Linked DNA regions of Homo sapiens. The protein of the gene in region 3 interacts with the protein of the main gene of each other region in a biochemical or structural test. Each region holds a gene or a part of one and is shown on either strand. Other genes may lie near its edges. The genes, in order: SP3, FBXO21, ABCB1 and PIM1.

What was found.
Region 1: the proteins of ABCB1 (region 3) and SP3 form a complex in vitro, tested with the Homo sapiens proteins (one study listed by BioGRID).
Region 2: of the proteins of ABCB1 (region 3) and FBXO21, one has a biochemical effect on the other in vitro, tested with the Homo sapiens proteins (one study listed by BioGRID).
Region 4: the proteins of ABCB1 (region 3) and PIM1 form a complex in vitro, tested with the Homo sapiens proteins (one study listed by BioGRID).

What each region holds. Positions count from the first base shown.
Region 1 is NC_000002.12:173,900,256-173,906,381, forward strand, and holds the end of SP3 (transcription factor Sp3), read right to left. Parts: 3' UTR 520-6,126; downstream 1-519. UniProt on the Homo sapiens protein: Transcriptional factor that can act as an activator or repressor depending on isoform and/or post-translational modifications. Binds to GT and GC boxes promoter elements. Competes with SP1 for the GC-box promoters.
Region 2 is NC_000012.12:117,152,466-117,159,492, forward strand, and holds part of FBXO21 (F-box only protein 21), read right to left. Parts: intron 5,620-7,027; coding exon of another isoform or gene 5,599-5,619; coding exon 5,408-5,598; intron 3,484-5,407; coding exon 3,326-3,483; intron 1-3,325. UniProt on the Homo sapiens protein: Substrate-recognition component of the SCF (SKP1-CUL1-F-box protein)-type E3 ubiquitin ligase complex.
Region 3 is NC_000007.14:87,597,870-87,605,821, reverse strand, and holds the start of ABCB1 (ATP-dependent translocase ABCB1), read left to right. Parts: upstream 1-4,937; 5' UTR 4,938-4,996; coding exon of another isoform or gene 4,997-5,067; intron 5,068-5,631; coding exon of another isoform or gene 5,632-5,637; coding exon 5,638-5,705; intron 5,706-7,952. UniProt on the Homo sapiens protein: Translocates drugs and phospholipids across the membrane. Catalyzes the flop of phospholipids from the cytoplasmic to the exoplasmic leaflet of the apical membrane.
Region 4 is NC_000006.12:37,166,232-37,173,178, reverse strand, and holds the start of PIM1 (serine/threonine-protein kinase pim-1), read right to left. Parts: upstream 3,028-6,947; 5' UTR 2,877-3,027; coding exon of another isoform or gene 2,604-2,876; coding exon 2,522-2,603; intron 2,407-2,521; coding exon 2,300-2,406; intron 2,199-2,299; coding exon 2,148-2,198; intron 2,055-2,147; coding exon 1,688-2,054; intron 184-1,687; coding exon 7-183; intron 1-6. UniProt on the Homo sapiens protein: Proto-oncogene with serine/threonine kinase activity involved in cell survival and cell proliferation and thus providing a selective advantage in tumorigenesis.

The DNA.
Region 1 (6,126 bases), on a different chromosome or scaffold from region 3:
GTCAGAAAGTCTGGAGTACATATTCTGACATCTACTAGCTGTGTGTTTTGGAGTGATACTCTGGCCCACTCAGCTTTAACTAGAAATGGAGATAATGCCTATTCCACCTATCTTACCATGTTATAAGAACTGAATAATGTTATAGTTACATGTGAGAAAGAAAAGTAAATAGTAGTCAGAAGCAGGACAGAGATGTCTGGCACCACCACTTCTGTTTAACATTAAGCTGTTGATTAAAAGTAGAGGCACAAGACTTGGAAATGAAGAGACAAACATTTTCTTCTTTGAGGACAATATGACTGTCTCCACAGAAAATCGTATAGGATCTACAGGCAAACTATTAGAACAGCAAAAGAATTATGTAAGATTATTAGACAAAATCATTTTACAAATATCAATAGCATTTATATACTCCAGCATTGATCAATTTAAACATTTAATTTTAAGAAGCCTATTCTCCAAAGCAACAACAAAAACATAAACTACATACGAATCAGTGCAATAAAGGATGTGTAAGGATTTTCAAAGAGACAATAATTTATTTTTAAAAACCATTAAAGACTTGAATTAATGGAGAGATACAGAATTATCATGGATAGAAAGATAACATTCTTTCCCCAAATTAATCTATAGATTCAATGTAATTCTAATAAAAAACCTTAACCCGATTGTTTAATTCTACATAATCATTTAATCCTAAAGTTCACAGAAAGAGCAAGGGGTCAAGAACAGTCAAAACCATTTTGAAATACAGAGAAGGGTGGGCAGAGGAGACTTCCTTACCGGATGTCAAGAATTTAGGATAAATAACAGAGAGGGCATTATAATCAGCAGGGAAACGTTGGACCATTCAATAAACTGCTAAGACAACTGATTATCCATATGGAAAATAATGGACTTTATGCCATAAACAAAAGTAATTTCAAAGTGAATTAACAAGATAAATAGAAAGGCAAAATCATAAAATTTTTAGACAAAAATTTTTATGACAGTAGGTAAAGAATTTCTTAAGACACAAAAGCCACAATTCAGATACAATAAAACTTCTGCAAAACAACACACACAAAACACCATAAACAAAATTAAAAGATAAGCCTTAGACTGAGAAAAGATACTATCAGCCTATATATCTCTAAAATATATCTTATATATAAAATAATATGTACCTGGGATTAATTAAGAATGTTTGAAGATCAATGCAAAAAATTGCAAATAACCCCAAAAAGCAAGTGGGCAAAGGATTCAAACAGGCAACTCCCATCAGAGGAAAATGGATTATGAACTTGTAAAAATATGCTCAACCTCACCAGAATATAGAAAAATTAGAATTAAAGTCATGAGTTATCATTTCACATCCATCAACCCATCATGTGCAGTAGCCTATATCCCCAGCCGTTGGATAAAATGAACAGCAGGGAAACAGTTAGTTGGACTTAAGCCTTTTTTTTTTTTTTTTTTTTTTTTGAGACGAAATCTTGCTCTGTCGCCCAGGCTGGAGTGCAGTGGTGCAATCTCGGCTCACTGCAACCTATGCCTCCTGCGTTCAAGCGATTCTCGTGCCTCAGCCTCCCGAGTAGCTGGGATTGCAGGCATGCGCCACCACCCCCAGCTAATTTTGTACTTTTCATCACCATGTTAGTCAGGCTGCTCTCGAACTGCTGACCTCAAGCAATCCGCTCGACTCAGCTTCCCAAAGTGCTGGGACCACAGGCATGAGCCACTGCCCCCGGCCAAGCCTTCTTTTCAATATTCAACTCAAGAGAGTGGTCTACTATGTGAGAAGACCCCTACAGTGAGAGACTATGAGGACTACCACACCTGGGCAGGGCTTGACTGAGAGATAGAAGGTGGAACCAGTGAGAAAAACATGCATTGTTTCTGCTACAGTTAACAAATATTTGGTTATCCCTACTGGTACCAATTTTTAAATATATCCATTGCTTAGTTTTTCAGGTCCCTTTTAAATTTCTTACTTATACTTGCTTTTCTTCCAGATGAATCTAGAATCATTTTGTCAAATCCCAAAACAAAATTTCATTGTTATTCATTGGAAAAAACATATCTGCCAAGGCAGGATTGGGAGGGTATGGAAAAAATGTGAACTCCTATAAATGGCTGGTAGGAATATAATTTGGTATGCATGTTATGGAGATCAATTTGGAAGTATCTGGTGAAACTGAAGATTAAGAATATCCTGTTGGCCAGTGATTCAAGTTCTAGATACATATCTCAAGAAATGCTCACATGTACACAAGGAAATATGTCAATTATTTCATTGCAGCATTGTTTATAAGTCAAAAATTGGAAATAACTGAGATGCTCATCAAGAAGAAAATGGATACATTGTGATAAACTTATTCAATGAACTACAGCATTTAAATGAATGATTTAGAGAAAGATGGTAGTGTGGATACATCTCAAAAACATGAGTGGTAAAACAAGTCCCAGAAGGTTTTGTACAGAATGATACCATTTATATGAAGTTTCAAAATCAGAAAAACAATCCTAGGTATGCATACATATAATAAGGATATAAAACCACTCATGGTATCATTCTGATAAACATCAAATTCAGAGCTGCAATTACTTATGTGGGTAAAGGGAGACAAATGAAATGAGACAGGGCTATACAGATTTCAGGCACAACTGTGATCATTCCTTTCTAAAAGAAAAAATATATAGGTAAAAATAAGACTATAAAAGTTGGGTGATAGATACTTAGGTATTTGTTACATTGTTTTCTGCATTTTTCTGTATTCTTGAAATGTTTCATAATAAAAAAGGCACAATACGAATACTAGCAGTTTCGTTAATAAATGTTGGCTGACAATTAGGTGGATCAAGGTGACTTAACAAGGTGAATTAACTCATTAATACAACAATAGTTGAAGACAACTATTTTCAAGTGTAGGAAGACTACTGATTCTTCCAGTGCTTACATTTACTAATACATAATATAATATGTGCCAGGCATTATGGAAAGTGGTTTACATGCATTAACTTATTTATCTCCATAATCACTCTATGAAGATGACGCTAGCATCATTCTCATTTTATAGTTAGAGAACAGGCTAAGAGTGGAAAGGTAAAGAGTGAAAGGTCACATAGGTGGTAAGCGGCAGAACTGGGAGACAAGCAAGCCCATGTGTGTCTAAGTCCCAAACCTATGCACTTAATCACTATATTATGCTATGAAAGGTTTCAACTTTACTAAATGAATAAAGATGGAAAAAAACACACAGAGTTACTAGGAGTAGAATTGAGAAAAATGCAATTAACACAACTTAAGAATTTTTAAAGGATCAGGGTGTGAGGAGGACTAAGTAATTGGGTATACATAATTAAAAGAAAGACCCAAACCTATTCTGAGTCCTAACACACAATGAAAATATACGTGACTTGGTGTGACATAGAAACACAGGCTAATGCTGGCAGAAAGTCAGTATTCCACAAGACCAACCACAGATAAAGATACAGCCATCTGTTAAGAGGGCGTCCTGAAACTGTAGAGGGACTTCTAAGGCTTTTAATCAGTTTTCTTGGACACATTCTACCAGTCTTTCAAGGCCCACCCTTTCTGATTCATCCAAGCTATATACTAAGTTCTGCCTTGTCTAAACCTGACTCACTTGGCAGGCAATAAACGTGACTTTTTGTTGGTATTTCCTAGGACGGCGGTCCCCAAACTTTTTGGCACCAGGGACTAGTTTTGAGGAAGACAATTTTTTCATGGATGGGGGTCGGGGGGTGGGGATGGTTGTAGGATGAAACTGCTCTACCTCAGATCATCAGACATTAGATTCTCTTAAGGAGGGCACTACCTAGATCCCTCGCATGCGGGGTTCACAACGGGGTTCGCACTCCTATGAGAATCTAATGTTGTGGCTCATCTGACAGGAGGCAGAGCTCAGGCAGGAATGCTCGCTTACCTCCTGCTGTATGGCCTGGTTCCTCACAGACCAGGGACCAGGACCAGTCTGTGGCCCAGGTGGTTCCTCACAGACCAGGGACCAGTACCGGTCTGTGGCCCAGGGGTTGGGGACCCTTTTCTATAGGATCAAGTCATCAACTCTATGGTGTTTTACGAGAGAATATACTGTACCTCAGTTGTCTTAGTTGGCATTATTTGGTAGCAAGTAACAGCCTTCTGACTTAAGAAAAAACTAAGTTGGGGAGTCTCTCTGTAAGGTTTTAAGGCTATCTTGTGGAACCCCAGGAGGATGAAATGCAGATAGTGAAATGCAAGACACTGGAACAAACACTGCCAAGTTATCAGGAATCAAGAAAGCCATTTTCTTTTTCTTCTGGGGTTGAATGTCATCTTTGCTTTCTCTGCCTCCCATGTATGTTCCAGATGTGACCTCCCAAGACATCAGTTTTCCAATTCCAAATTCTCAGGAGAAATCATCTAATTGGCTCAACTTTGACCAGATGTCCACTCCTTGTCTGATTTCTGAACAGCTCCTCACGGAAGGTGGCAGAAAGTAATGCTCAGAGAAGGGATGTAAGTCGGACAGATATCCTAAAAGGTCACTAAGCCAATACTTCCTGTATTTCGTTGTTGTCGATTAATCGGAGGCTTAGACTTTTTTTTGTGGGGGAAGGATGGAGGGGAGAAATAACTGCATTTCTCTGATGGCCTTTCCTAATCTTAAAAACCACTTCAGTGCTAGACTTTATCTTTCAGTCGCAATGAACCTGAAGATTCTTCGGCTGGTTTTTAGAAATGTTCAAATAGGATAGACTCTTACACAGGGGTGTAATTTCCTCAAGAAAATACACATTTAGGTGCTTCAGTCTTTTCTTCTTATTCCATCCTTTTCTGATAGGGCAGTCACTTCAGACACTTCATCCACTATCACTTTAGGTTCCAACTGTTCTTTTCACATTTTTGCATTAGAAATAAGACTTCTTCTCATTTTGGAAAAATCAATGTATGAACCATAGTCAAACAATGAAAATTCTAAAACACTTCACTACAGAAAAATGGAATCTCCAGAGTTAAGGGGGGAGGAAGGCATTGGAAGGAGGTTACCATTTGAATCTCTACCGTTAAGTCAGGCACTATGCTGAATGCTTATATTTTAATACAACAATCCTATCAACAGGGAGTACTATTGTTAGCCTCTTCATGGATGATGAAAATGAGGTTTTAAGGTAAGAAAACTACCAATATCACACATCTAGTAAGTAGCTTAGCATAGATTCAGAAGCAAGAGTTAAAAGGTGAAAAATGGGGAAAAGGACTGAAGGAGATAGGCCTTCTCAGGATATCATTCTTAACATCAAAAACTGTATCTTAAACGTATTTAATACAATGAAGTGGCATGAATCATGTTACATGACAATATACATGACACCTTTTTAAAAAATATATTCATATCATGAAGACTTTATAACATCAAATAAAAGCCAACATGGGAAAAAAAAAAACCTTGTATACCCTTTAGACTCCAGATTTGGCCAAGCGTGGTGGCTCACGCCTATAATCCCAACACTTTGGGAGGCAGAGGTGGAAGGATCACTTGAGCCCAGGAATTCAAGACCAGCCTAGGCAATATAGTGAGACCCCATCTCTACAAAACAAATTAAAATTAACTGAGCATGGTGGTGTGCACCTGTGGTCCAAGCTACTTAAGAGGCCGAAGTGGGGAGGATTGCTTGAGACCAGTAAGTGGAGTCTGCAGTAAGCCATGATTGCACCACTGCACTGTGTGACAGAGACAGACCCTGTCAAATATAGGGAAAAAACAAACAATAAACCCTGGACTAGAATGAATTTTTCTGGGGAGAAGGTGTAGGATTCCAAAAAGACTAGGAATCACTGACAAAAAAAATTCTTCTCTTTTGCAATTTGGCAGCCCCTCTTAAAAATTTTTCCACTCTGTCCCTCACAAAGTCCCCCATCACCCAACATACCACACTGTACCTTTGCAAACGCCATTTCTGCTGAGTTTCCCAGACTTCATGCAGAATTCTCCCTCTTCTAGGTTTCTACAGTACTTTGTTTCTGCCACTAATATATATATTTACATTATACGCAAATCTGTCTGAACAAGGCAAGGGGCCAATGTTGTTTCTTCAACACTAAATAAAATTATGAGGTGATTTCACAAAAATATCAAA
Region 2 (7,027 bases), on a different chromosome or scaffold from region 3:
AAAAAAAAAAAATTTACAAGACAACCAGTCTGGATTCTTCAAAAAGTCAAAGTCATATGAAAAAGGGGGGAAAAAAAATGAAGAATGAGGAACTGTCTTTAATAAGAGAGACTAAAGAGAAAAAAAACAACCAAATGCAGTGAATGAATTCTGGTTGGATACTGATTTTAAGAAACAAGCCAAAAATAGGCATAAAGTTATTTTGTGACAATTGAGAAATTTGAAAACTATTAGATATTATAAAATAATTGTTACTAGGTGTGATAATGTAATTTGGTTATGCAGAGGAATCTCCTTATACTCAGACATAATTAGGTCATGTCTGCAATATTCTTTCAAATGGTGCAGGAAAACAGTAAAATCTCTATAGATAAAGCAAATATGGGAATCATTTACTGTTGAATTGACTAGAGGGTAAATGGGGGTATTTGATGTATTCTTTTAACTGTTCCACGTGCGAGCAAGAATGATGACTTCAAAGAAGATGAACGGAAGTGGGCTGGAGTATGTCAGGCGTGGGAACCGTGCTGGGGCTGTAAGGGGAAGGCCAGATCCCTAGGGCCTGGTAAAGCATTCTGCACTGCCTGCCGATGAGAAACTCCTGATGGTCAGTCAATTCAAGCAGCAAGTGGCCCGGTCCAGGGACACGCTAGGAAGATCCTCTTGCTGTTGCTAAGGAAAATGCCCGGTTGGGGACAGGCCGGGAGGCAGGTGCCAGTTAGGAAGTAGGCAAGCAGAGACCACCAGAATGGAAATGGGAGACACATGAGGAGACAGCAGTGGGTGTGTAGACAGATGTATCGCGAGGGCAAGGGGAGAAGAGCAAGACACGGCCCCCACGTGGTGTCACTAGTGAGATGGGGCAGGCAGGAGCAAGGGGGGTATGGGGGCACAATGAGTTCATGTTTTTTCTTTCTTTACAGAGATAATCGAGTTAAAACAATGGGTTCAGTGAGTCGGGGTAACAATGTTGGAGAGAAGACCCCTGAGAGCCCTCCAAGCACACATGCCCGGGGGCTGTTACAGAGGTGGGCACGGAGCCCAGAGAAGAGCCCAGAGAACACGGCTTTGGGAGTCACCAGCACATCCACAGACACCCCAAGGGGGAAGGAGATGAAGGCCTAGAGGAGAGTCCCCTGGAGAGGGAGGACCCTGAAGACAGCCACGTATCAGGCATGCTGGGGGAGATCTGCCCCTTGGCCCAGGACTCCGAGTCCCTCAGGAAGCGCTTGCTGACACAGCGCTGATGGAGCCGCCGGCAGAAGACGGGAACTCTCATAGTGTAGGAACAGCTTTGAAGTTCTACGTTTTAAATTCAAGAAGCCAATTTGCTAACATTACCCATCATTTAGTTCCATCTCAATTTAACAGATGGTAAAACCAACAAGCAGATATTAATTTTTTCAGTAATGACAATTTTATGACTAAACCTTACATTGCATGTTTACCTAGATATGATTAGAGATCAACTTCTGAAGTGAACATATCACAACCCCTAAAACCAAATACTTAAGACCAACCCTAAACAGTGAATAATGATGCCATGTGGTAAAGCCATAGACACTGGCCCACGGTGTTGTTGAAAAGAAAATGCTCATTTATTCTTGTGAACGCCATTTGTTGTAGGCTATCAAGCGTTTACCAGGTGACTTGTGCTGGCACCAGTGGCCCAGTGAATCAGTCAATAATGTCCAAATCATGTGTTGATTTTTAGAGATTGTTTATATTCGACACAGCTTCAAAAGTTAAATAACATTACCGTTGGTGCCTCCATCTGCCACAGGGAGCACAGAAACCCCTTACACCATCCCCATCACACTGAGACAGGGCAAGCGACCTGCAGTTTCAACAAACATTTATCTTGATGCTGCTGTTCCAGGGGATCCTTTCAGTTTCTGATTAACTGACAATAATCATTATTTTCCAGCCTTTTATTTTAAGATGAGGTCTCACTCTGTCACCCAGACTGGAGTGCAGCAACACAATCAGAGCACACTGTAGCCTTCACTTCCCAGGCTCAAGTGATCCTCCCAACCCAGCTTCCTGAATAGCTGGGACCACAGGTGTACACTACTCTGCCTGGCTAATTTTTAAATTTTTTTGTAGAGATGGGGTCTTGCTGTGTTGTAGCTGGGAACACAGGTGCACATGACTCTGCCTGGTTAATTTTTAAATTGCAGAGATGAGGTCTTGCTGTGTTGCCCAGGCTGGTCTCCAACTCCTGAGCTCAAGCAATCCTCCTGCCTCACCCTCTCGAAGTGCTGGGATTATAGGTGTGAGACACCTCACCTGGCAATCTCCAGCCTTTCAGAAAGTTCTGAGGTTTTTATACATCCCATATTTTGATTATTGGATTTATCAGAACATAATATTGAGTTAGGTCAAAACTCAGACATGAGCAGGTACAGCATGATGGATGAAGAGGAGGCTCTGTCAAGCTGCCTGGCTTCAAATCGTGTTCTCTAAGTTAAAATCTCAATGGCTTCCCTGTGCCTCAGTTTCCTCACCTAGAAAATGATGATGATGATGTTTCTCAAATGGAGTTAATATACATTAGAATGATGTCCGTCACAGAATGGCACTACATTAGCATTCACATTCATTTTTATTAATAAATGTGAATTATTAATTAATCAATGTGAATGCTTTGACAGACATACACTGAATTCATCCTATTAAGTAGAGGTGAAATTCAACAGGAACAAAGAGAAGGGAGACTCACACTGAAGGCATTCTTGTCTCTTACCAGCTTCCACAGGCTCTGTCAGTCTCCACCTCAGCCTTGCCCTGGGCTGGCACCTGCCGGGGCGGCAGTGGCCCAGACGCCTACCCAACCTTACTGTACACTTGCGGGCTCTCAGGTGCTCCCAGGGCCGGCGCAGTGGGCTGCAGTTCCCACAGGTGGCCACACGAGGGCATCTCCGGCGTCAGCCGGCAGCCACAGCCTTGGGAGGCCAGGGAGCACTAGGGGGCCCCCAGGTGTTCATCCGGTTCCCTTCTAGTCTGGGAGGAGCCGAGGGCAGGGTCCAGGAGGCAGGACTTACAGGAATTTGATTGGCATAGACAGTGGCCAATCAGATGTCCGGGCTGTGGGAGCGGAGGCCCTGGGGGAGGGCGGGTATGACTACTGACCCCTCGCCAGGGCGGCACCTGTGCAGACCCAGCCACGTTTAGCTGACTGTGGGCCCGAAGGAGGCCGGCCATGGGGCGTCGGCCGCCTCTGAAGGAACCGATGGCCCACGCCCACAGTACCTACCCGAGGGCTCAAACGTGCGCTGAAAACACGCCCGCGGGGCCACTGGCACAAGCGGAACCCGCCGCTTACCTTGGGCTGCGTATCGACAGGAGCCGTCCTCCACCAGCACGTTATAGAAAGGCTGGTGGTGGCCGTGCGGCAGGCTGTGGACGTTCATGTTCCGGATCCACTCGTGTCCCATCATGCAGGTGGGGTCCCAGCCGTAGATCACACAGTTATAGCCATACCTAGTTAACACAGGAGGAGCAGTCAGTCCCTGCAGACCCGGCCGCAACAACCTCCAGACAACCGCGTGGCTTCTCAGCTCACATCCTCAGTTACCTGCTTTACTCCACGGTGAATCATTTTTCAGGACACCCCTAACCCCTTTTATAAACACCTCTTATTATCAACATAGCACTTTATCTGGAAAAGAATAAACTTTTCAACAAAAAGTGATTAGATGACAACTGGTTACCCAAAAGAAAAAGGTATGGGGACCTGGCCTGACAACAGCACACCAAATTCAATTCTCAGTACAGCAAAGACTCAGGTGTTAAATGCAGAACTTCTAAAATAGAAAGTATCTTCATGACTCAAGATAGGGAAGGTTTGTTAAAACAAGGCACTAAAAATACAGCCGTAAAGGAAAAGACTAACCAATCTGACATCACTAAAACCAAGAGACTAACAAATCCTGATCCAAACATGTAAAAATATGAGACAACTGGGGAAATAGGAACTCTCATTAGATACTGCATGAAGTTAAGGAACTGGGGTTTTCTAGATGTGATAATAAGATGTTAAATATGAAAAGACAGAGAAGGAGAGAGCACCCCTGCCTTTTAGAGGTACATACTGAAATCGCTACAGGTGAAATGGCATCTGGCACTTGCGTCAATTAACCCAGGGAGGAAGGTCTGGAGGGTGCAGGGGACAGTAAGATTCACCCCGTATGGCAGCTGTTGAGGCTGGATGACAGGAACACCACCTGGTTCCTTATAGTCCTTTCTCTCTTATAAATCTTTGCAAATTTCCATTTAAAAGTTTAAAAAAATGCAATAAAGAATGAAAACCACCAGCCAAAAACTGGGAAAAGATATTTGCAACTTATCGTCATGTAGATACTGATACACAGAAGAACAACTACATATCATATTAGGGAGGACTAATAACTCAATAGAAAAAAATACACGAAATGGGCTGGGTGTGGTGGCTCACGCCTGTAATCCTAGTACTTTGGGAGCCTGAGACGGCAGATCACTTGAGGTCAGGAGTTAGTGACGTGCCTGGCCAACATGGTGAAACCCTGTCTTTACTAAAACACAAAAAATTAGCCAGGCGTGGTGGTGTGCGCCTGTAGTCCCAGCTACCTGGGAGGCTGAGGCATGAGAGTCGCTTGAACTGGGAGGCAGAGGTTGCAGGTGAGCTGAGATACAACACTGCACTCCAGCCTGGGCAACAGACCCAGACTGTCTCCAAAGAAAAAAAAAAAAAGAAAAAAAGAAAAGAAAAATGAAATGTTTGAATAGGCGCTTAATAAAAGGAAATTTGGAACTTGGATAGCCAGTAAATATATGAAAAGAACCTTAACGTGTTTAGTAACCCAGGAAACAGAAATTAAAACCACAGTGAAACACTATTTGCCCTTTCTCAGGTAAGTACACTTTTAAAGGTCTGGCAATAGCACCAGGCGAGAATAGGAACTCCAGGCTCCCAGCCTGCTGGTGGGATGTAAACTGCTCCAATCACTTTGGATACAGTTTAATTTTGCCTGGTAAATAGACCAAGTGCCTATCGGATTTGAAGAGACTGAGATTAAGTGACAAGATATAAGAACAATGAGGAAATGAGAGAAAAAACTCGTGTCTTACAAAGTTACTTCCATGTTCTCACACACAGAGAAGGGTCAAACATCTAAAGGCCACTAAAAACACTAGAAGATCTCTCAGGAAAGTAAGCTGCTGCTTAAAAAACACAAAGGTCAAAGACACGGTTCAAAAAGAAAAAAAAAGAGGTTCAGCTTTCTGTCTTCCCCGCGGTGCGCACTCGGGGGATAAGTGATCCAGTCAGCTCCTCCTCCACTGTGTCCTGGGGGCTCACCAGGTGCATGTGTGTCTCTGCAGCCCCTCTGGAACGGACACTGCAGGACAGATGATCCCGGGCACTCACCTCTTATGCTTCATAATGAGCCCGATGGAGTAGCAGACATCTCTGTGCTTCTCATCGGAGCGCAGCTTCACCTCTACGCCCACCTCCTCCTTTTTGCGCTCAATGTGCTCTAGAGTGTGCTGCACCAGGTAGCCCACCGCCCCGTGCTGCCCCGGGTCTAGGGTTTGGATGTGCTGGAGGATGTCAAGCACCTTCAAAACAAGACAGAAAGACTAAAAGATAATATTTTCAGCTAGGCCTTTTCTTTTTTGCGGCGAGGGATTTAGACCTACCTACGTAACCTAACAAAGCAAAGGACCAAAAGGGGTGGCTATGCCCTGATCGAACCGGTCCAGGTCTCTGGACCATCCTCTGATGGACCGCCACCAAATCGGCACTGCAGATGCCCAGGGTTGGGCTCTACTGTAACACTGGCAGCTGGCCCAGGATACCCCAATTCAACCAGTGTCAACCTGAGGAGTTCTTTGGAAACCAGTGTGCTGGGATAAGCGCTGGGGACGCAGGTGAGGGCCCACCACCTAGGGCACTCTGGATGAGGTGGGCTCTAACAGCACCTAGCATGCTTGGTCGGCATGGGAAATGTGAGAATCCACGTTTTTTCAATACACAGGAATGATTTTCACTTGCCACTCACGAATTCAGAGGGGAAAAAAAAATGCTAAATTGCTTTAATCGAGACGAAGAGGATGTCTGACACAACTGCCTCAGTGCTGGAAAAGATGGAAAAGGTCACAGAGTGGGCACCAAAGGGATGCATTCGTTGAGTTTATGAAGCTACACTAGAAGGAGGGAGCCACGTATATCAGAGTTCTAAAATCCTGCTGGTCACTTCAGTGGTCTTAACTCATCATGGTATTTGGTATTCAGCAGGCAGCAGGAGAAACTACATCTATGCAGAGGTTAAACTAGTAGCACAGAGTAGCAGCCCTGTCTGACTCCACTATTACCGCCTCTACTGCACACAGTGCCTCTGTGGAAAAAACTCCACGTTTAAAAAGACACAGACATACAATTATTTCGCACCCATTACGTTTACAGCCCTTAGCATAGAATTTCTGACAAGGTTCTCCTTCCAATTTACTGAGTCCTGGATTACAGCCTGCTTAGTGCGTTACAGCAACCTGGACTCTAGGCCCAGATCGGTCAGACTAGCTGGCGTTTTTACCTCTGAATTCCTTTCTTAGCTTATCAAATCATGAGTAATCACTGTCCTATTTGCTGATGCATTGTGAGCCTGTCAAAGTATTGTGAAAACTCCAGTTTTATGCACCATGTTATTATCTTGCCTTTCAGACTGCGACGTGCTGGACCTCAACATTTACTGAACACTATTCTCTGCTGGTCACTGTGCCAAGTCCATCAGGTTTTTTGTTTCACTTAATCCTTCCCATTTGAAGGTCAGTAATTTCTTGATCTTCAAATTGGGAGGATTAGGTGGAAAAAAAAAAAAAGCTTTTAATCACTGCCACTTCCCGAACAGGACTCAGGCTTAGTGAAGTGACTTTCCCGGGGTCACAGGGTTGTGGAGAGGTGGAGTGAGGCTGTGGCTCTGGGTGTGAAGATCAACTCTTGGTCTCAACCAGTGTCATATCCTAGCAAGAGCAGGAGCATTTTAAATTA
Region 3 (7,952 bases):
AACACACATCAAATCTTACCTTATTTTCTTCTTACAAAAACCCTAGGAATATGCTGTTTTTGTCTTTATTTGAATGACACAGAAATCAAGGTTTTTGAGCAGTGGAGTATTTCTTCAAATGACACAGAAATCAAGTCTTTTGAGCAGTGGAGTATTTCTTCAAAGCCACACAGCTAGTAAGTCATGAAGCTGGAATTCCAAGAGTTGCCACTTCATTTTCTTCTTTCCCTTTATCTTACTCAGTTGTCTTCTCTCCTCTTAATTTTGTCATTCATTTAAAAACATTTCTTGTGCTATTATGGTAGATTTATTTTAATAGGGGGCAGTGACTTACTCAGAGAGATGATTCTCTAATGGAGTTTTAAAGATCTTAGAAGTTGATAGAGGAGGCTGGGCGTGGTGGCTCATGCCTATAATCCCAGCACTTTGGGAGGCTGAGGTGGGTGGATCACTTGAGGCCAGAAGTTCAAGATCAGCCTAGTCAATGTGGTGAAACCCCATTTCTACTAAAATTACAAAAATTAGCCTGGTGTGCTGGTGCACTCCCATAATCCCAGCTACTCAGGAGGCTGAGGCATGAGAATTGCTGGAACCCAGGAGGCGGAGGTTGCAGTGCGCCTGGATTATTAACACTACACTCCAGCCTGGGAGACAGAGTAATACTCCATCTCAATAAAAAGAAGTTGATAAGGGAGATAGTTCATGGCAACGGATCTTTGAAGGCACGCTAATGATAACTTAGGCATTTAGCCTACTAGTGTAATTTCCATAAATCTGCCTCTGATGTCATACTCTCAGCACCTAATATTTTCTACAAACATTTATTGAAACTTTATTTTGTATAAGTCTCTGTCCAGTTTGAATATTTAAAAAATTCATAATCATATGAAACATTAATAATAAATACAAAATGAGAGATGCCGATACTGAAAAGTAGGATTGCGGAGTGGTAGAAAATATTTCTGGCTGTAGTAGATGGGGAAGTGTTCAAAGAGGAGTATAATTCAGGTTTCCATTTGCCATCGACTTATCACATGGCTAACTCACTAAGCGACTTAATTAAAATTAAATTAATTTATCATCATCTGATCACCATTTCACACAACTCATGTCTGTTGCTGTATTGGCTAAATGATGGCAAGACAAACGACCTCTGAAAATGATCCTATTGACCTTCGGAATCTGGATTTTTTTTTCAATGCAGGTGTCCATAGAAGCAATCTGATGTAATCCAACATGAGTTCAAGCACAGTCATTTAATATCCCCTATCAAGTACAGTCATTTAATATCCCCTATCATCACATGTCCTTCATACATAAAAATCATTACATGTGAAAGGGTGGAGAGTGTGTGGATCCCTTATTATTGTGTTATTGTAACACAATAACAATATTGTGTTATTATTGTTAACACAAGTGAGTCATATGTCTTGCTCTTTGGACTGAGTGGAAACTTGTATTCTTTCTCTGCCTCAGGTCAATTAACTTCATTGAGGTGAGTTGCATTCCTTCTTTAAGCATGTTGAACCTTCAATCTGGACTCAGATGGGCTAAATAGAGGAGCTAGGAAAAATACAGAAAATAAATTATTAGAGAGATCAGAGAAAGATACATAAGATTTACAATAAAAGAATTATGAGAAAAACATCCAAAAGAATTAAAAACCATAGGAGAAGGAAAAATAGGTGAACAGCTTTTTAATTTCTATAAATGTGTTGTTAATACTCATAATAAAGGACTCAGAGCTGGGATATGAGAATAATAGGTCAAACGTATATGGATACATAGATGTGACTACATACATGAGTTGCAAAGAATGCTAAGGAGGGCAAAAAGAGATTGAGAAGAGGGCATTATTACTAATATATAGCAATGTTGAATGTTTAGGGTGTTTCAGGCACTGTACAAATCTTTTAAATACACAAATCACTTAATCTTGCCATAACATTAGAAGATACTATCTACTCTTTACCAAAAAGGTAACTGTGGGATAGCAGAGTTAAGTAACCCGTTCAAACCTATGCATAATAATCAGCAGAGATGGTCCTTATCTAAGTTTTTCTGCCTTTGAAGTCCAAATAGTTTAATGCAGCCAGGTACTAAAGAAGAAAACTTTTGTAAATTAGTTTAGTTTAATGATTTACATGTGGAAAAGCACAGAGTGAAAAGCACATATCATCTGAGAAGCCCAGTGAGTTTGGCTGAAATGGAGTGAACATGTACATGTTGAGGGTGAGGAAGATGATTAGAGAGAAGTGATGTGTTGTGGTTCTTAAAAGCTAAGAGGAAACTGTTAGATATGATATAGTCTGTGGCAGGGAGCCATTGCAGGTTTTCCAAGATGGACTCATAAGGAGAAAACACTTCGTGGGACTGGAAAAGGCAGTGAAGTGGTGTGTCCTATGATAATGTACTACAGTGTAGGATAGTGGTTAAGAGTACAGTTATGAGAGAGGGACTACTGGTTAGCACCTTACCTGCTGTGTGACTGGGCAAATAATGCAAACCTCAGTGTCTTTTATTGTAATATGGGAGTAACAAAAATAGTAACTACTTCATAGGATTCTTGTAAAGATTAAATGACTTAATTTCTTTGAAGTGCTTGGCAGTTCCTGATAAATGACCAGTAGTTAATAAATGTTAGTTGTTATTATTATCATTATATATTATTACTCCCATAGATACATATAGAACAGACTGCAGCAGAGAGGCAAATCTTTAATGTTGTCAGAGTATAGACAAGTTGGTGAAATGGCTACATGAGAGCGGAGGACAAGAAGGTGCAGATTGTGGCAGTCACTTCAAATGGAAATATCACCGCTTGAATGAAGGTATATGAGTGTCAACTTGCAAGGGGACCAGGTAGGTTTCATCAGAAATTAAGGAAGCTTAAGGAGAACAGCCAAGTTCAGCTTGACAGAAGTGGTGGTGGCACAAATGCAAGACTGGTGTCTTTCAAGAAACCAAGGACTGTTGAAAGTAGCAAGAGCTAGTTTGTTTTAGGTCCATCATGTTTTATATTCACACTTTCATGTCAGTGGAGCAAAGAAATGGAATACAATATAATAGAATGGTAGAATCTTATTTTTAAAATCTGTGTTATTCTGATCTTTAACTTACTTATATCTTTGATAGAGATCTTTACCTGATGCTCAAGATTGTAGAAATAGTATAATCAACATAACAGTATAGCACTGTATTTATATCCTGCACTGTTTAGGGAGGGTTTAAGGCCATTCAAAAGGATACATAAAATACAACAAGATTACATAAATGAAAGGTGAGATAAAGCAACAAAGCAAAACAAAAGTGAAAACAGAGATCATAGGCACAAATAAGATTAAAAACGCATGTAATGAAGATGAAAGCTTTTACATTTACCCCAGATGGACCACAGGGTTGTTGTTAAGCCTTTAAACAGTGAACAATGCTGTACACTTGCATATGCAATTAGAACATGTGGAAAAAATAGTGGCCTGTTAGAAGCCTAATTAACAATTTGTGAAAAAAAAAAAAAAAAAAAAAAAAAGAGGCCGAGCTGTAGCTCACGCCTGTAATCCCTGCACTTTGGGAGGCCGAGGCGGGCGGATCACGAGGTCAGGAGATCAAGACCATCCTGGCTAACACAGTGAAACCCAGTCTCTACGAAAAATACAAAAAATTAGCCGGGCGTGGTGGCGGGAGCCTGTAGTCCCAGCTACCTGGGAGGCTGAGGCAGGAGAATGGTGTGAACCCGGGAGGCGGAGCTTGCAGTGAGCCGAGATCCTGCCACTGCACTCCAGCCTGGGCGACAAAGCAAGACTCCGTCTCAAAAAAGAAAAAAGAAAGAAAAACAAAAGAAAACTTCATTGTATTGTAAGGCCAAGAACAAAATATATCAAGATAAGGAAAATTTGTAGTCAAGAATAGAAAAAAATTATGGCTTTGAAGTATGAGTTATTTAAAGAAAGTGGAAACATCCTCAGACTATGCAGTAAAAAACAAAGTGATTTTCTTCTTCTAAACTTATGCAATAAACTGATAGGTAATATGTGAAAGTCATAGAATGTAGACTAGAGGATACAACAAACCTATTTCCTCTATGTTCATAAGAAGTAAGAAAAGCTCTGATGTGAGTTAGCATTGCTTTACAATTTTGAATTGTGCAGATTGCACGTACTTTTCCTCAGTTTGAAGTAAATAGTGGACAGGAAAAAATATTAAATGTTGGCAGTAAATATGGAAGGAAATTACAACTAATGTAATATGCTAAAACATGCTATGTTTATTTTACTAATTTGAATTAAAATGTAAGAATTTAAAATGCCCTGGAAAAACACGGGCATTGATCTGACGTCTGAAGTTTTAAAATATTACACACTTTGAAATAGCATTTGTACCTTGAAATACCTGTCTCTATATATTTTTTAAAACTTCCTTTTTCTTTCATTCCATTTATCATCAAATAAAGGATGAACAGATGTAACTCAGAAACTGTCAAGCATGCTGAAGAAAGACCACTGCAGAAAAATTTCTCCTAGCCTTTTCAAAGGTGTTAGGAAGCAGAAAGGTGATACAGAATTGGAGAGGTCGGAGTTTTTGTATTAACTGTATTAAATGCGAATCCCGAGAAAATTTCCCTTAACTACGTCCTGTAGTTATATGGATATGAAGACTTATGTGAACTTTGAAAGACGTGTCTACATAAGTTGAAATGTCCCCAATGATTCAGCTGATGCGCGTTTCTCTACTTGCCCTTTCTAGAGAGGTGCAACGGAAGCCAGAACATTCCTCCTGGAAATTCAACCTGTTTCGCAGTTTCTCGAGGAATCAGCATTCAGTCAATCCGGGCCGGGAGCAGTCATCTGTGGTGAGGCTGATTGGCTGGGCAGGAACAGCGCCGGGGCGTGGGCTGAGCACAGCCGCTTCGCTCTCTTTGCCACAGGAAGCCTGAGCTCATTCGAGTAGCGGCTCTTCCAAGCTCAAAGAAGCAGAGGCCGCTGTTCGTTTCCTTTAGGTCTTTCCACTAAAGTCGGAGTATCTTCTTCCAAAATTTCACGTCTTGGTGGCCGTTCCAAGGAGCGCGAGGTAGGGGCACGCAAAGCTGGGAGCTACTATGGGACAGTTCCCAAGTGTCAGGCTTTCAGATTTCCTGAACTTGGTCTTCACGGGAGAAGGGCTTCTTGAGGCGTGGATAGTGTGAAGTCCTCTGGCAAGTCCATGGGGACCAAGTGGGGTTAGATCTAGACTCAGGAGCTCCTGGAGCAGCGCCCAAACCGTAGTGGCACTGGACCATGTTGCCCGGAGCGCGCACAGCCCGCGCGGTGCGGGGACCTGCTCTCTGAGCCCGCGGGCGGTGGGTGGGAGGAAGCATCGTCCGCGGCGACTGGAACCGGGAGGGAGAATCGCACTGGCGGCGGGCAAAGTCCAGAACGCGCTGCCAGACCCCCAACTCTGCCTTCGTGGAGATGCTGGAGACCCCGCGCACAGGAAAGCCCCTGCAGTGCCCATCGCGGCCAGAGCAGCTGGGGCATCAACGGCGGGCGCTCCCTCTTACTGCTCTCTGGCTTCGACGGGGGACTAGAGGTTAGTCTCACCTCCAGCGCGCCTGAGGCTCATGCATTTGGCTAATGAGCTGCGGTTTCTCTTCAGGTCGGAATGGATCTTGAAGGGGACCGCAATGGAGGAGCAAAGAAGAAGAACTTTTTTAAACTGAACAATAAAAGGTAACTAGCTTGTTTCATTTTCATAGTTTACATAGTTGCGAGATTTGAGTAATTTATTTCTAGCCTCCAGCTCTGAAATAAATGACATGTTGTTGTTTTTAATTATTTTTAAGAAACGCAAGCTAGCCTTTGGAATCAATATCCCTGCTTAGAGCAGAAGTTTGTTGGCTGAGTGGAGCACAGCATATGCATTTTCCCTGTCTTTTTTGTTCTTTCTTTTAATGATACATAATATTTTACATATTTATGAAATGGGGTACATGGAAGCGTTTTTTACATGCCCGGAATGTGTAATGATCAAGTCCGGGTATTTGAAGGATACATCACCTTAGGTATATTTCATTTCTATGTGTTGATAACATTTTAAGTCTTCTAGCTACTTTGAAATATACAATATATTGCTAACTGTAGTCACCCTCGTCTGCTATCGAACATTGGAACTTATTTGTCCTATCCAACCGTTCTTAGTCATTCACCAACCTCTTTTCATTTCACCTTTTTACCCTTCCCGGCCTCTTTCCCTTAGTCTTGGTGTGCCTCTTTCTCAGCTTTCCTGCCCCAGACAGGCGGATGCTCATATGTGTTTCTGTCTTATGAACTTCTGCTTTTCAAGTGGTGTTGGTCGCCCACACGTGAGCCATATGCTGCTGGTGATCTGCTCTGTGGTCCAGGCTCTTGCTTCCGGTAAATGGCTATGTAAACATCGCGTTTGTGGCCTGGCTGATGAGACAGAAGGTCAAAAGTACATTTAGGTTGTTAACTGGCAATAAATATCTGTATATAATATTGGTAATGTAATCATATAGGGAAAATAATTATTTAAAGTAAATTTTGATCATGGTGCTCTGCCTTTATAGAATATTTAAAACTTCACTAAATAGATTCATTGTTAGTAGTAAATTGTAAAATAGACTAGTAAGTTTAATAATATTAGAAACTGTAATGTAAATTATAAGATAAATTAGTAAACACATTAATATTATAAGAAACCAAGCTTTTCAGTGTAAGAGAAAAAATACAAATGTGGAAATCAAATACATTTTTAAAAATAATGTTAAGTTTGAATTAGAAATTTCAATATGAATTCATAATCTTTTAATAGTTCATTTTCAGTCCACTGAAAGGGACAGTAACAATGAGCACTGTTAGTACCAGATCTGGGTTTCTAAATACCATTCCTCCCTAAAAGAAATGAACCCCTCAGTAGCTAATTTCAGCCAGGTCTGGGACAGGAAAAATAGAAAGTGAGCCTGGAGTATCTTGTGGTACCTGAAAATAAGGAAGTGGAGTTTAATGGAGTAGTCGAAAGCACACTGAAGCTGTCTGGAAGATGCTTCCAATGGCCAACTCTGGGACAATTTGAGCATCAAAGAACATCGTAACTGTAACTGATTTTGAGATACTGAATGCTACTGCTGAATGCTTAATATTCTGAGAGAAGGGAAACTGAAAGAAAGTGTGAGAGGTAGAGAAAATAAAGCAATGATCTTTAGAGAAAAATTCCAGCTATCATTTTGGAACTTCCATTGTTATAATAGATTCAGGCAAGGATTGTCAATGAACTCTAAACTATCAGAAAAATGTTGTATCTAAGAATTTTCTTCAGAATGTTTACTAATTGGAAGGAGAATATGCTTCTCCAATTAAAGATTTTGCAGTTAGCACCTTAACCGAGTGATCAGACCTGGTATCTCTCACGGTAGAATGGACTGTAGTAAATGACTCATCACTTGGATTTTGAGTAAACAACATCACCTAGCAAATATTAATATATCTGCAAAAACATTTAGTCTGTATACAATTAAACTTGTAGACTGGGGCTGTCCAATGGATATATCATGTGAGCCACATTTGTAATTTAAAATTTTCTAGTAGCAACAGTAAAAAATGAAAATAAAAAGATAAAGTAATTTTGTAAATATATTTTATAGAACTCAATATGTCCAAAAGATTGGATTTTCTACATGTAATCAAAATGATTAATAAGATAGTTTACATTCTCTTTTATGCTAAATCTCCTGTTTGATGTGTATTTTACATTTATTGCACCTCCCATTTGTATTCAGTTTGATACAGGTATACCCAAGATGTGGGACATTCTGTAAGACAGCTGTTCTTGTTCCTTTACAAAAGTCAATGTTAAAAAAATAAAAGGAGGACTTCTAGATTAATAGAGACTAAAGAGATATAACTACCAAACGTAGTGTGTGAACATTACAAAACAAAACAAAAACAATCTAAAAGTTC
Region 4 (6,947 bases), on a different chromosome or scaffold from region 3:
AGTTACCTGAAGAGACCCTCTGCCTGAAGAAAACCTGGCCCCTGATGATCTCTTCGTCATGCTCGAAAGGAATATCTCCACACACCATATCATACAGCAGGATCCCCAGGGACCAGACTGCCGCCGACCTGCCATGGTAGCGATGGTAGCGGATCCACTCTGGAGGGCTATACACTCGGGTCCCTGTGAGCCAAGGGAATAGAAGAGAAAACACACTTTTAGCAAAAACAAGCACAAAGAAGCTGGGTGGTATATATAACTCTTTCTTTTAAAAAAAAAAAAAATCCCTTCTCTCAGGAGCTAGGTGAACTCCATTTTTCCCTCTGGGCTAAGGAGAGTGGAGGCGCACCTTACGGCATCTCTCCAACCCAAAGCATTACCCACCTCTCTGCTAGCCCAAACCATAAACTGAAATTCTTTATGAACTGCTCCAAGAAACAAACACAGCTGGCCGCAGACCCAAAACTTGAGGCCCTGTGAGGCAGGACCGCCTGCGAAGGATGAAGGGATGCATGTCTGCACAACCAAGAAAGGTATCTCATAGACTATCCTTAAATTGCATTCACCACTGCCCAGGAGCCCGGGTGAGATTCTCATGGCCGACAGGATCCAAGCAAGGATGCTTGCACAACATCCTAAGTCAGGGTGCCCTTTGGGAGGCCTTCCTCCCCACCCGATGCAAGCAGGAGCAGACACCCACACCCTTTCCTCCCTAGACTGGAAAGGTAGACAGAGCTGCAGGGTTGGTTTCAGACCACGTGATTCCTGTTTACAAACTTTGGGTAGTAAAAGAAAAAGGAGGGGCCATGCCGCTGGTGCTCACCAGGGGGCAGCAAAGACTTGAAAGAAAAAACATGGGAGGACCCGGCCAGCCATTAACTGTTAAATACAAAAAATGCAGCCCAACCCAGCGTCCTCCAAGGGCAAATAAACATAAACCACAAGCCCGAGTCACAAGTTTTGAAAGGCTGTCGTTTGTTAGGTTAAGCCGCTCAGATGATGACCCACCCTCCGCAGCTTTGATCTCAGGCTCTCCATTCCTTCTTTTCTGAAAGAACCCGCTCCAAGCCCCTCCCTAGGATAGGTTTTCATCCTCTCTGCGGAGACACCCAACTAATTTTCAAACCAGCGACAGATCTTATTTCACAACATTCATTCCTGACTCTCTCTCCCCTTAACACTAAAGAAAAAAAAAAGCCACCAGTAATAATATAGTTCCTATTCCTTAACCTTCCCTAGATCAGAAAGGAGTTAAGAACTGCAGCTCTAAAACTACCATACAGAAAACTAACTCCCTTATAAAATAAAACAAAAATTACAAAACCGGCATCAATTTCCACCTCTTCCCCCGCCCCCATCCTTTTACTGGCGGGGAAACTGGGTCAGACTTTAGAAAAATCTGGGCTACCGCCGGTTGCCCACAACCTCTTATTCATCGGGAAAGCCTGGAACTAACTGAATTCCACTTGAAGAATAAAATCATGCCAGAAACATTACAGGTTCAGCTGGCTGAAAATCCCCGGCTTTACTACGCTGGGAGGCTCTCCTGCGTCCCACCCCGGCTAGCATCGAGCCAGGCGGCCCAATGACCTTTACAAAAGGCTGGCGCGGGAGACTGGCCGAGGCCTCCGGACTGGGCCGGGCCGGGCCGAGTCACCTGGGCAGCTCCCTCCCGGGCCTGGCTCACCATCGAAGTCCGTGTAGACGGTGTCCTTGAGCAGCGCCCCCGACCCGAAGTCGATGAGCTTGAGCTCGCCGCGATTGAGGTCGATAAGGATGTTTTCGTCCTTGATGTCGCGGTGGAGCACCCCGCAGTTGTGGCAGTGCCGCACGGCCTCCAGCACCTGCCAGAAGAAGCTGCGGGCCAGCTCCTCTTGCAGGGCTCCCCTTTCCGTGATGAAGTCGAAGAGATCTTGCACCGGCTCGGGCCTCTCCAGGATCAGGACGAAACTGTCGGGCCTCTCGAACCAGTCCAGGAGCCTAATGACGCCGGAGAAACCCGAGCTCACCTTCTTCAGCAGGACCACTTCCATGGGCACTCGAGTGCCATTAGGCTGCAGGGGCGAGGGGGCCGCGTTAGGGCGGGAGTCGGGGGCGCCCCTCACCCCACCCACTCATCCTGGGGGTCGCTCCTGCAGGGCACTCACCAGCTCTCCCCAGTCGGAAATCCGGTCCTTCTCCACGTGTTTGATGGCCACCTGGAAGCCCAGGGTCTCCGTCAGGTTCCCTCGTCCGGGCTAAAGCACGCCCGTGCGCCCCCCGCCCGGCGCGCCCTCCCCACCGCGGGGCGCCCACTCACCGGCAAGTTGTCGGAGACGCGGATGCCTGAGTAGACCGAGCCGAAGCCGCCGCTGCCCAGTAGCGGGCCCACCTGGTACTGCGACTCCAGGGGCTCCTTCTCCTTGCCTAGGAAAGGGGGAAGCACGGGGACTCAGTGCCGGCCCGCGAGCCGCCAGCTCCCCACCCAGGAGATCCCGCCGCCGCCCCGCATCCCCGGGCCGGAGGCGGGGGGTGCTCTCACCGGGCGCCAGCTTGGTGGCGTGCAGGTCGTTGCAGGGCGCGGCGCGCAGGTGGGCAAGCGAGTTGATTTTGGACAAGAGCATCCCAACCTCCAGGATGTCGGCGCAGGGACGGTGCCCAGAGGAGCTGCCGCAGGAGCCGGAGCCGGGGCTGTGCCGAAGGCTATGCCTGGGGCTGTGGCTGTGGCTGTGGCTGCGGGTGGCGTTGCGGCTGTGGCTGCGGCTGGCGCGGAAGGCCGAGGGCGAGTCGGAGGACAACTGAGGGCGCTGCCGGGACTGGCGGCGGGAGGGCGCGCCAGCGGGGTCGGGCAGCGCTGAGAACGGCGGGGTGAGCGGCTCGTGGGGCTCGTGCGGCAGCGCCGCGGGGCAGGAGGCTAGTGGTTGCTGCTGCTGCTGCTGCTGCTGCTGCTGCCGGTCCCGCCGCCGCCGCTGCCACCGACTCCTCTCGGGCCTCCTCAGCCACCGCGGCCGCTGCAGCAGACGCCCGGCTCGCCCCGCAGCCAGGAGTAAAGGGGAGGAGCGCGCCGGCGGGGAGGGCGCGCGGGGAGGGCGCGGCGGGCGGGGACGGGGCGGGGCCTCTCCGGGAGGCCAAGGCGGGGAGCAGGGCTGCCGGGCCGGCCGAGGGAGGAGAGGGGGTGGGGAAGCGGCGGGACTGGGCGACTCCCCTCGGCCCCCGCCCCGCGCGCTCTGTGGCCGCGCCCCGGCCCCGCCCCTGCCAGCGCTACTCCAGCCAACCAGAGGCCGATTGATCTGCATAACTCGGCGCGCCCCGCCCCCGCCCCGCCCAGCTCTCGCGGTCAGAATGGTCTCTACGCCGCCACGACGTGGCGGGAAGGAAAAGGCGCCAAAATGGAGGGGGAGGGGCGCGGGGCGTGAGGGGAGGCGGGAGCTGGGTGTAGGGCCGCGAGGGAGGAAGGATGGGGAGGGGCGTATCGATTCAAACCCAAACAATAACAAAGCCATCAAAGGCCGCCCGAGGCCGGCTCTGCGGCTCTCCGTTTCGCTGAGGGTTTTGGGTCAAGGGCTCGAGCCGGAGCATAACAAGTTGCGCGGAGACGACGGGCGTTAGTGTGTCAGGCGGGGAGGCCGGCGCGCCGGGTGTCGGACTGTGTGTGGGGATGCCGACGAGGGTGGTCTTTCTGTGTGACTCAGACCCGAGACCTCCAAGTCGGCTGGGGCGGGCTGACGTCGCGCTGTAGGCTGGGGGCGGATTCTGGGGGTTTGTGTGTTGGGGGGCGCGTCGGGGGCGAAGGATCCGCAGGACATGAGTCACGGAGGGAGTGGAGGAGTCAGGCCTGGAACAGAACTGGAGGCGGGAGCCCCGCTCCTGCGGGAAAGGGATGCAGCCCTCAGTCGTTCCGGCCGGCTAAAAGCTCAGCCACGGGATTCCCATTTTAGAAATGCAAAAGCACCAGCGAATCCTGATTTCTGGGAAGGGATGTGTGTCAAAGGGCCGGGTAAAGAGGAAATCACGAAGCAAATGTTAGTGTTGTGATGCCAGATGCTGCCTCAGCCCCTTCTGTGAGGGCGGAAAATTCCTCATCTAAAACGAGGGTGGGAGGGTGCGCTTGATTTAACCAGTTTTCACGTTGTAGTCACCTTTTCATCAGCCTGTTATTACCAGGCAGGCAATACCAGCAATTATTGGCCAACCCCAAGTCTTGTCTCAAAGGAAACCCCCCACCCTCTGCCTCCCTTGGAAATAACCCGGAACACTGACCAATTCCACTTGCATCCTTTGTCCTTTTAAACTTCATGTAGAGTTGATAACGACGTGTGAAATGAGTAAATTAAAATACTATATAATCCATAAATTGAATTGTCAGTGGCCTAAGTAATTGAAAGCTAACTACATTCTATTTTAATTTTTTGAAGTGCCTGCCATTTAAAGGAAAAATCAGGATCCCTATAGCTGTCATTAGTGAATTTAAATGTTTCCTTTGAAAGTTTTCTACAGTGCTTGCTTTATAAAAGTGCCCAGATCCTCCACAACTTTTATGAATTTATCCTACAAAATATTACATATTTTCCTTTTGTTTGTGTACTGTGGCCGAACTCATTCATTTTTTATGACTAGGAGAAAACCCAAGGGAACAAGAATTACTCCCTTTTTGCAGATAGGAAAATGAAACATAAATAGGATGGCACAGGGTCATACAGCAGCTAAGAGAGGAGATGAAATGACCCAAATTCACCTCCTGAGTATTCAAAGCTTTCCGCTTATCAGGGTCTAAAACTGTCCTTGGCACCGAACAAGACATCATTAAACATATGTGATTCCCACTTCCATCCCTTCTACCCTCCCTTTCCTTTCTCAAACCCTCAAATGTAGTCAAACAGAACTATTCCCACTTGTTCCCACTCGCCTAGCACTTTACAGACCCTTTGCCTTTGCGGAAGCAATCAACCTGTCCTGGGAGAGCCCTCTCTACCTCTCCACTTTTATTCAAAGCCTTTCCACTCTTTAGGAAACAATTGTAGTTCTACCACAGATTGATGAACAAACTCAGAGCATTGGTTCACTGTCCACTAATCTGACAGTTGGGATTTGTTTTTTTAAATCCTTTTTGTTCATTTACTTTTCCATTATACTTTGTCTTCCTATTCCTTGAATGCCCTTTTTTTTTTTTTTTTTGAGACGGAATCTCGCCCTGTTACCCAGGCTAGAGTGCAATGGCACTATCTCGGCTCACTGCAACCTCCATCTCCCGGGTTCAAACAATTGGTTCTCCTGCCTCAGCCTCCCAAGTAGCTGGGATTACAAGCGCCCGCCACCATGCCCAGCTAATTTTTGTATTTTTAGTAGAGACGGAGTTTCACCATGTTGGCCAGGCTGGTCTCGAACTCCTGACCTTATGATCCGCCTGCCTCGGCCTCCCAAAGTGCTGGGATTACAGGTGTGAACCACCATGCCCAGCCTCCTTGGATTACAGGTGTGAGCCACCATGCCCAGCCTCCCTGAATGCATACTTTATCCAACATTTGTTGATAAAAGAGAAGACTATAATGGATTCTAACAAAAAGGCCATAATTAAAGTCAATTTATACCAAATTTAAATGAATTAAGTGGGCTTCGGGAACATAAAAGTTGGGAGCAAGGGCTTTAAACTAAGTTAGCCTGGTTTCAATTCCGGGATCTGGCAGCTACTAGTTAGGCATTGGTCAAGTTACTTAACCTTATTAAGCTTTAGACAGAATGGAGATAATAACAGCATCTACCTCATAGGGTTGTTGTAAGGAGCAAATAAAACTCTTGTTTGTAAAGCATATAACCCAGTACAGAGTAAACTTCTAATAAATATTAGCAATGATGATGGCAATAATGTTGATCGTGGTTATGATGATGATGTTTTTTAAAACGGCCTTTTTTTTTTTTTTTTTTTTTTTGAGACGGAGTCTCGCTCTGTCTCCCAGGCTGGAGTACAGTGGCGCAATCTTGGCTCACTGCAAGCTCTGCCTCCCAGGTTCACGCCATTCTCCTGCCTCAGCCTCCCGAGTAGCTGGGACTACAGGCGCCTGCCACCACGCCTGGCTAATTTTTTATATTTTTAGTAGAGACGGGGTTTCACCGTGTTAGCCATGGTGGTCCCGATCTCCTGACCTTGTGATCCACCTGCCTTGGCCTCCCAGAGTGCTGGGATTACAGGCGTGAGCCACCGCGCCCAGCCCAAACGGTCTTACACCTAGAAGGTACCAAAGGTAAACTACTGGATTAATAGTTCGATTTTTAACCATTTGGGGAGAGATGTGATTTAAAATAGTTGTTTCTAGTAGATCTTTTAGGCCTTTTAGAAAAAAAAATATGTATCAACTTCAACCTTTTTCACTTTTTCTAGGTCTTTGAAGGACTAAATATTTAATTAGAGCTAAAGTGATTAACATTTAATATATCTACTTTGTATAGTGGGGGCTTCACAGCTGGAAGTTACAAAACATGGACCTTGCTTGGCAAACAGCTTTGATTTACTTAAAACTGCTTTAAAAGATAATTAGTAAACATTCAGATGTGTTGTGGGTCAAAAGTTACTCCTCGAGAGTAGGGAACTTGATGTTTTGATTTATCGAAATATAGTCTTAATAAAATTAGCACTATTTGTGCTATCTCAAAGAATCTAACAAAGAATCAGAAAAATCACCCTAATAATTAAATGACAAGTGCTTTTGGAAGGATAAAAGGCCACAATTATGCTAACAGTTCTCTGGGAAGAGGAGCATTTATTAATATTAATTTGAACAATATCCAAATTAATCCTTAGGTGGTTTTCATATTCTGCCTGATATGGGTTTAATCAAGTCATTGTCAAAGGAATGACTTCATCCAGGGACTATATGCTTATGCAAAAAAAAAAAACAAAAAAACAATGACTTCAGCAAGTTCTGTAGTCACGAAATTTTTTTAAAAAACAAGTTTAGAAGAAAGTTTGAAAG